Linked DNA regions of Homo sapiens. The protein of the gene in region 2 purifies or fractionates together with the protein of the main gene of each other region. This does not show direct contact. Each region holds a gene or a part of one and is shown on either strand. Other genes may lie near its edges.

The links.
Region 1: the proteins of SPINK1 (region 2) and PDIA5 purify together in Homo sapiens (affinity purification with mass spectrometry; one large-scale study listed by BioGRID and IntAct). This does not show direct contact.

Annotation. Positions count from the first base shown.
Region 1 is NC_000003.12:123,119,025-123,122,524, reverse strand, and holds part of PDIA5 (protein disulfide-isomerase A5 precursor), read right to left. Parts: intron 1-3,500.
Region 2 is NC_000005.10:147,828,872-147,833,081, forward strand, and holds the start of SPINK1 (serine protease inhibitor Kazal-type 1 precursor), read right to left. Parts: upstream 2,801-4,210; 5' UTR 2,707-2,800; coding exon 2,652-2,706; exon of another isoform or gene 2,538-2,651; intron 2,000-2,537; exon of another isoform or gene 1,634-1,999; intron 760-1,633; coding exon 728-759; intron 1-727. UniProt on the Homo sapiens protein: Serine protease inhibitor which exhibits anti-trypsin activity. In the pancreas, protects against trypsin-catalyzed premature activation of zymogens.

The DNA of each region.
Region 1 (3,500 bases), on a different chromosome or scaffold from region 2:
ATTGTTTTAAGTCCCTAGCACAAGGCCTCACATACAGCAAGGACACAATAAATGCTCACTAAATTCACTGTTTTTTTTTTCCTAGCCCATTTTAGGATGCAGCAAATAATACAGGAAGAATAAATTTGAATTCGAATTTACTTGAAGCCCTGGAACGCTCTATAAAAGTCATTCTGCTCATTTCCCAGACTGCTCCAGCGGCCTGTTCCAGTAATATTTGTCTTCTTTAAAAGTCCTTTTTTTTTCTGCCTAATTGATCTCCCCAGTGTCAGTGCACATTCACCACAGATTAATCTTACACGTCCTCCTCGCTCATTACATCACTTCCCTGCACAAAACCTTCCAATTCCATTGAATATAGGCTAAAATCCAGCTCCACATTCAATGCCCATATGTTACCTATTTCATTTTTGAATCTTTCTTTCTTACAAAACTCTTCATTGTACACCTGTTAGGGTCTAGATTTTTTATTCTCCCAGGAATAAGACAGTCTGAGATTTCTGCACAGGAAGGAAGTTGGACTGTCTGCCTTCTCAGACATCTTGCTGAGTGCAGCAGCAACATGCAGTGGCTGGAAGCATGGACTCAGGATGCCTGGGTTTGAGTCCCAACTCCCCATGGGGTCGCGCATTTCCTTGAATGAGTCACAGTTGTCTCTGCGTCTCACTTTCCTCATCTGCAGCCACCTCATGTGGTTGTTGAGAAGATTCAATGAAATAATACAAGATAATCAATAACACAAAATGTATTAGCTATTTTTGTTACTAGGACTAGGAGGTGCTCTATTTCTGCCCACACTTCTGGAACACTCGCTGTTCTCTCCTGGCCCCCACTTGGTGCCTTCCAGTCCCCTTACTGAGGCTGCCCATCCCCCGCCTCCTGGCGACCCTCCAGACTCACCCATCCCTTAAGGCAAATCAAACCTCACGTCTCTGGGCAGCCTTTGCAAACCACCTTCGCTTGGGGTGAGCTCTTAATTCTCCAAGTTTCTGTAGCACTTTTGTGCCATTTTGGGGGCATCTATTAGTTAATGAGGCAAAAATTTTTGAAAAACTACATACAAACACTTTCTGGAGTTAGAATTTGTGAAGTCAAATGAGGTGACACACCTGGTCTCGGCCTGTGGAGAAGATAAGAACACAGCCTCCCTGCTCCCCACTGCCATCTGCATGCTTGGGGCCACTCAGCTGGCGTGACATGCTCTTCTGTGTGTTCAGCCCTGCTGCCAGGAACCATCACGGCAGCTTCTTAGCGTGGGCTGCATGTGAGCTTGCACTCAGAGGAGAGTAAGATTTCAACAGACGTCCCGGGATGGGGAACTGGAGGCAAGGCAAAGAAAGATGTGGCCCAAGAAATGGAGCACATTTCCATCTAACTGGAAGGCAGGATACACAGAAAGGAGAAGACATGAAAGAAAAGGCTGAGTGAGTTGGCCAGGATCACTTTGGGAAAGGCTTGAAATACCTAAGAAATCGGGACTGTATTCAGGAAGTGACGGAGAGCTCCCGAGGGTTTCTAAGTAAGAAAGCAACCCTCAAACCAGTTGTATCTCTCGAAGCAGAAAGGACGAGCTATGAGGGAATGCTGTGGTCAGGAGACAAGTCAGCAGCCTTTGGCCACCAGCTAGCATAGCCCACTGGACAGGGCTGGTGGGCAGGGAGAGGATGAAGGGTGCATGAGGAAGATGCCTGATGATGCCTCAGTAAAGAGAGGTGGAGGTGGGGGGTGGGGAAAGAGCCTGGCCCCTGGGGAAAGGACTTAATGCAAAGTTCACAGTCTGCCAGATGGAAAGATACTGAATTTTCAGACATGCATTTGAGACACAAGGGAAAAAATCCAGATGGAGCTGTGAAGCAAGCCATCTGACACGTGGCACTGGCACTTAGGGGAAGGACTTGGGCTCCATGGAGCTACGTTTTGTTGAAGCTATGGACAGAGATGTGGTCACTGGAAGGTAGACTGTAATAAGACAAAACCTTGCTCCAATGTGTTAACAGGAAAGCGGAACCTTGGGAGCACCCCCATCTAGCCGGTGGAAGGAATGTGGTGCAGGGCAGCTGTAGGGAAGAGAGGGGATCAGTCATCTGTGTCTATGAGTGCTCTGTGGGGTACAGGGCTTCTTCCACACAGCCCATTTGTTCCTCACCACAACCCAGTGTGGGCAGGGTTGGCATTATCATCTCCATTTTACAGATGGAGAAATGGAGGCTCCAAGGCTAAGGAGCTTGGACCAAGATCTCCCAGCTGGTTAGCAAGAGCCAGCACTAGAGCCTGGTCTGTACAAATCTGTCGTCATGATGGTTCTATTTCATGGTGTTTATACCCAGACTGGCCCATCATGGCCGAGGTCCACCAAAGACTAGGCAAAGCTCAAAGGCTCAGTGCAGATGTCAATAACTGGCAAGGCTGGGAAGAGGCAGATGGAGACAGGGCTCATTCTGATGGCTGCTCTGAGATGGGGGCAGCGTGGCTGCTAATGAGGATGTCAATTAGCAGGAGTAGATGGGACAGACGCGATGAGTCACCAGACGTCAATGACAGCACAAAAGAGGCAGCTGTAAGTTTGGAAATGGCAAAGGCTGTGCATCCCTGACCTGGCATGCCTTCCTTCCTAATGATGTCAATCAGGTTGAACACCTCCCAAAAAATCTGTAGAGGAGGAAGATTTTTGACCCTTGCCAGAGACAGACCCAGCCAAAAAGGCTCAAAGATGACAGAGATGAAGAAGTGACAGAAGGCCCTAATCCAGCTGTGTTTCAGCAGCGAGGAGGGGGTGAACTTTGATTTCTGGGGAATAGCAGCCCATTTATTAGTCCCACCTCTTTTCTGTGTGTGAAGACAAAAAGCAATTGACACCTGTGGTCACTCAACCCCTCCAGCCAGGTCCCCAGTTTCTGGGGAGCTGCCCCTGCAGAGTAAGCCCTAGCCTCTAGGGGCCTCCTGCGTGGGTGATGCGTGCAGCGGCCAGGGCCCTTCCCTCTTTATGTAGCTGGGAAAGGGCTAGAACTTTCCAGAAGATGCTTTTCTAGGAAATGAAAGGGAAAATAGAACAAAACAAACCCCAAGCAAGAAAATATACAAACAAAGAAATGAGTTTACACAACCCAGATGTCTTAGGCCAAGGCAGCCAACACCTGGTCACAGCTTGACTTGCCCAGCTTTGCAGACAACGCCCCTGACTTTTCTGTAATGTTGAGGGAACTGGAATGGGTAACTTTTATATTTCTAGACCTGGGCCCAGGCAGAAGAAGCTGGAATTCATTTTTTCTTTTTTTTAGAGACAGGATCTCACTCTGTTGTGCAGAGCATGGTGCAATCATAGCTCCCTGCAGCCTTAAACTCCTGGGCTCAAGTGATCCTCCCACCTCAGCCTCCCAAGTAGCTAGCATTGACTACAGGTGTATGCCATTGCACCCAGCTAATTTTTAAAATTTTTTGTAGACATGGGGTTTCACTATGTTGCCCAGGCTGGTATCTAGCTCCTGGCCTCAAGTGATCCT
Region 2 (4,210 bases):
CCAGTTTTGTTTTACTAACACTCATTTTTTTTTTTTGGCTCAAAATAACCCCTCAGTTACTTCGGAGCACCCTCCCTGATTTTTCTAACTAGGCTAAGTTCCTAACGGCAGCAGAACTTTTTCATAACACTTATCACAAATGTAATATTGCATTCATTCATGAACTTTTGGTCTATCAGCTGTCTCTGACTAGATATAAATGTACTGAGAACAGGGACACTTCTTCCTCTGGTCTCCAAATTTACTGAAATTACCTCTTAAACAAAAAAATATGAAAAGGTTAGAGTTAGAATATTTTTCTAGAAGGAGAACCTAGTTTATTATTTTCTGTCATTCATTATAAATTAGAGCCACACCTTGGTGATTGGGAGAGCTGCATGCCAACATGGTCAAACTGGCTGTAAGGAGGAAGGGCTACTTGGAGTGAAGTTGAGAAGGCTTCCACCCCAAATACTTGTCTACAGCTATCACTAGTCTATATAAAAACCCCTTCACAGCAAGCACTGTAGGACTATATGGAACTTGCTTATACATCAGTGAAATTGTCCTTCAATATACGCCTGTGGGTTGGAACTACTACTACCATTTGCATTTCTCACGTTAACCCTCCCTAGCATTCATACTCCTCTTAACTTCAGGCTAAACTGAAAGGTGACAGCAAGGCTGCATTTTTGTTGGATCAAACTGTTCCAGTCTGAGAAATAAGAAATTACAAATATCTCTTTACCTCTCTTCCCAGGGAGTCAGCTCCAGTGTTACCTAGAAATAAATCAGATATGGTAAGTTGGGTCCTAAATGAAAGAAGTCAGATCTATTCTTCATCAGAATTCTCTGCTTTCATTGCAGACTGTGACTTCTTTACTAGGCTCTTTCATTCCCCACCCTTTCTGATTTCTCTAATCTTCCAAAAGTATCTGACTGATTTTCCTGTACCCCTTCCTTGGCAAAACCTTAAAAAGTTTGAGTAAAACTTTGATTATGACCAAAGTATCTCGATTTGATGTTTTAGGAAGTTGATCTATTTCCTTGAAAACAGAAATTATGCACTTACTGCTGGAAATGAATCAGGCACTGAGCAAATTATCTTTTGAATACTCACAAACATTCTCAAAACCAGTTACTAGATCTTTAATCTCACAATTAGTGAAGTATAATTTTTATCTCAGTTTACAGATGAAAGTATGGAGAGTTTTTATAACTAGCTGTGAAACAGTTATCATAAGCAGTAACCAGGTCTTCTGATGCAAAGTTAGCTTTTTCAATTACATTTAAATTCCCTTTTGTAAGTATTGTTGAAAAAATAGAGTTCTTTTGCCAACTCACTATCAGTTCCCAAAGAGCTATTTCCAACAATTGCATCATATGGACTATGGGTCTAACTCACATTTGTTGAATTTACAGGTAGTCAAAATAGCTAATCTCTATTCCCCCAGAAAATAGCAGAGGTTTTGCTGACAACATATAGGAAATGATAACTGTGGATAAGTTCATGGAAGGGAAAGGGAACTAATATGATAGCAATCAAATAAGGAAACATTCCTGAAAATTAATTTTAATATCATCAATCTTTGAGGTGATCTGAGCAAAGAGGTAGTTCTTTGTATCTAAATGTAATGAAAATTAGTGAGGCATCTATGAGCTTGGAGAATTTCCCCCGGGATAGTCAGAACTTGATGTTGTTGGGGGCCCACTGGCTTTTAGAATCTAGTTGAGTCTAAAAACTGAAGAGCAGGTGCTCATCACAGGCATCTATTTGTATTAATTAACATGCATGAGGAGGGGGAAAGGGAACACTGACTGTTGCCATAAATATTCAGCAAATAAAACAAACAATATTCTTCCTCTTCTTAGCAAAGTGCTGATTTGGCTCTCCACAGGATCCTTCACTACATGAGAGGTGAAGTTGAAAATGTTAACCATTTCCAGTGATAAAAAGGAAACTGATCTTGGCTCTGCGGGTTCAGAGTTGTCTGTCAACATTGTCAAGATGCAGTTGGAGGTATATGTGCACCATCTATTCAAGCAGAATATTTTCTTTCAAAACATTCAAAATGTGTAATGTAAATACACAAAATGCAATTTTTGTATTTCCAGATACTAATAAGAAATACCAGGAATTGAAAATAAAAAATTCCCTTTATATCACATATATTAGCTATTCAGGGATAAATCTGACAAACTATACATGATTCAAGTACACTGAAACCTATACAATAAAAAAATAAATTTTTAATCAGTCAAATTATGCCTTTTATACTGAATAACTGGAAGCCATTTATCTATTTTATGCAATCCCATGAGAATTTAAAATTTGTAATTTGGCCTTACACATTTACAGAATGAGAAGTATACTTAAAGTTAAAATATTTTTACCCTTTTTTCTCTACCATATCCCAACAAAGGGTCAGCCACATCAATAGAGGAAAACCATTTTATTTCTGGGAATTTCTTACTAGTAGAATTGTTTTCCTTATAGTAGGTTAAAAATTCCTCTTAAAAAATAATTCTTACCTGTTGATTTTATTTCATCTCATTAGGTCCAAAACATCTCTCGAAGACTAGACTACATCAAAAGTCTAGAAGATAATGTGCTTCACAAAGCAACAGGTCAAAACAGTTTTATTTAAATTTGAAAAATATGCAACACTTACCAGATAGACTCAACAGGGCCAAGGCACTGAGAAGAAAGATGCCTGTTACCTTCATGGCTGAAGTTCTGCGTCCAGAGGTCAGTTGAAAACTGCACCGCACTTACCACGTCTCTTCAGAAGCCTGGGACTGGAAGGGTCATATGGCAGATGGCAGCAAGGCCCCACCTACTGGGCTATATCACAGATCTCCCTGGTTATTGATTGACTCTGTGTCATAGCCTGGCCTCCAGGTTCTGGGAATGTCACCTGTGTAAGAAAGGTGAAAGGAGCCAGGTGGGCCTGAAACATGCAAGGCAAAGATTCTGTCAGGAAAATAGTTCTAGTGGTTAGTTTGATCCCTAACTCCCTCTGTGGTTGTGGGAAAGTCATTCCCTTCTCAAGCCTGTTTTCTCACCTGTAAGATGAACTCAAAGATCCCTTCTACTCTGTAGTTCTGGATAGATGAGCAGGTATGGATAGCTACTAGAAAGAATTTTATTCCAAGTAGGGTAAAACCTCTCCATTCTTTTTTCCTTTCCTCCACTCTTCCTTTCTTATTCTTCTTTCTCTTTTCTCTATTTTTCCCTCACTCATTCACAAAACCTAAAGTAGCTGATGGAGTGGCAGATGAGAGGGAAAGAGAAAGCAAGAGAGAGAGAGGACTCAGTTCCCTAAAGCGTGTATTCTGGAGCTAGAGGGTGCTTGTTGGAGCCACTTTTGCTGTGCTTCTGTGTATTCATCTGGAAATTAAAATAATAATAACACCTAATTCAAAGGGTTACTCTTTCATCTGAGAATATGTGCTGGGTAAAAGAGAATATGTGCTGGATATCTACCATGTGTTATTAGAAGAGAATTCTCCATCCTCTCTCATGTTTTGGTGTGTCTTATGAGTAGAGGTACTGATAACCTTTGTTTCAGACTATCTTTTTAAGGGTGTTTATATAACAAACGACCTTAGAAAATACGTAATGTCTCCCTCTGCACCAAAAGGCAGGTTTGTTTACTGTTTAGTGTAATAAAGTTAATATCTCCTTCTAGGGCAAAGACCATGTTAATTGCCCTTTACAAAAGATTTCGGGTTTTTAAAAGCTTGGCCTTTCTTTCCTTTAACACACTGTACTTTCCCTGCAACTATCACTTGATGCCCCTTAAATTGGCCTGTGGAAATTGGGGCTTGGGAAACCAGAACAAATTCCAATACTCTGGCTGTTGCTATGGAATAATTAAGTCCCTTTTCTCTGAGCCAGGAGTCTGTGCCTTCTGCCAGAAACCATTATAATGTGGCAGGCTAACTTCTTAGCTTCCAAGTAGGATAAAATCTCAAACCCTTCCCAAGTCATGACAAGAACTGTATTTATCTCTTAAGACAGATCAGTAAATAAAAATAACAATCTCTGTCTTCATGGAGCTTCCATTGCCTTTTTGTTGAGGGAGGCAAGTGACAAAAAATAATAAGTGATTATAAAATATATCAGATAAATATTATGGAGAAAAGGACAAGAAGGATAAGGGTGCTGGAGGGTTAAGGAGATATGTATCATAGCGTAATCAGAGAAGGTCTTGCTTTTCAGGTGATA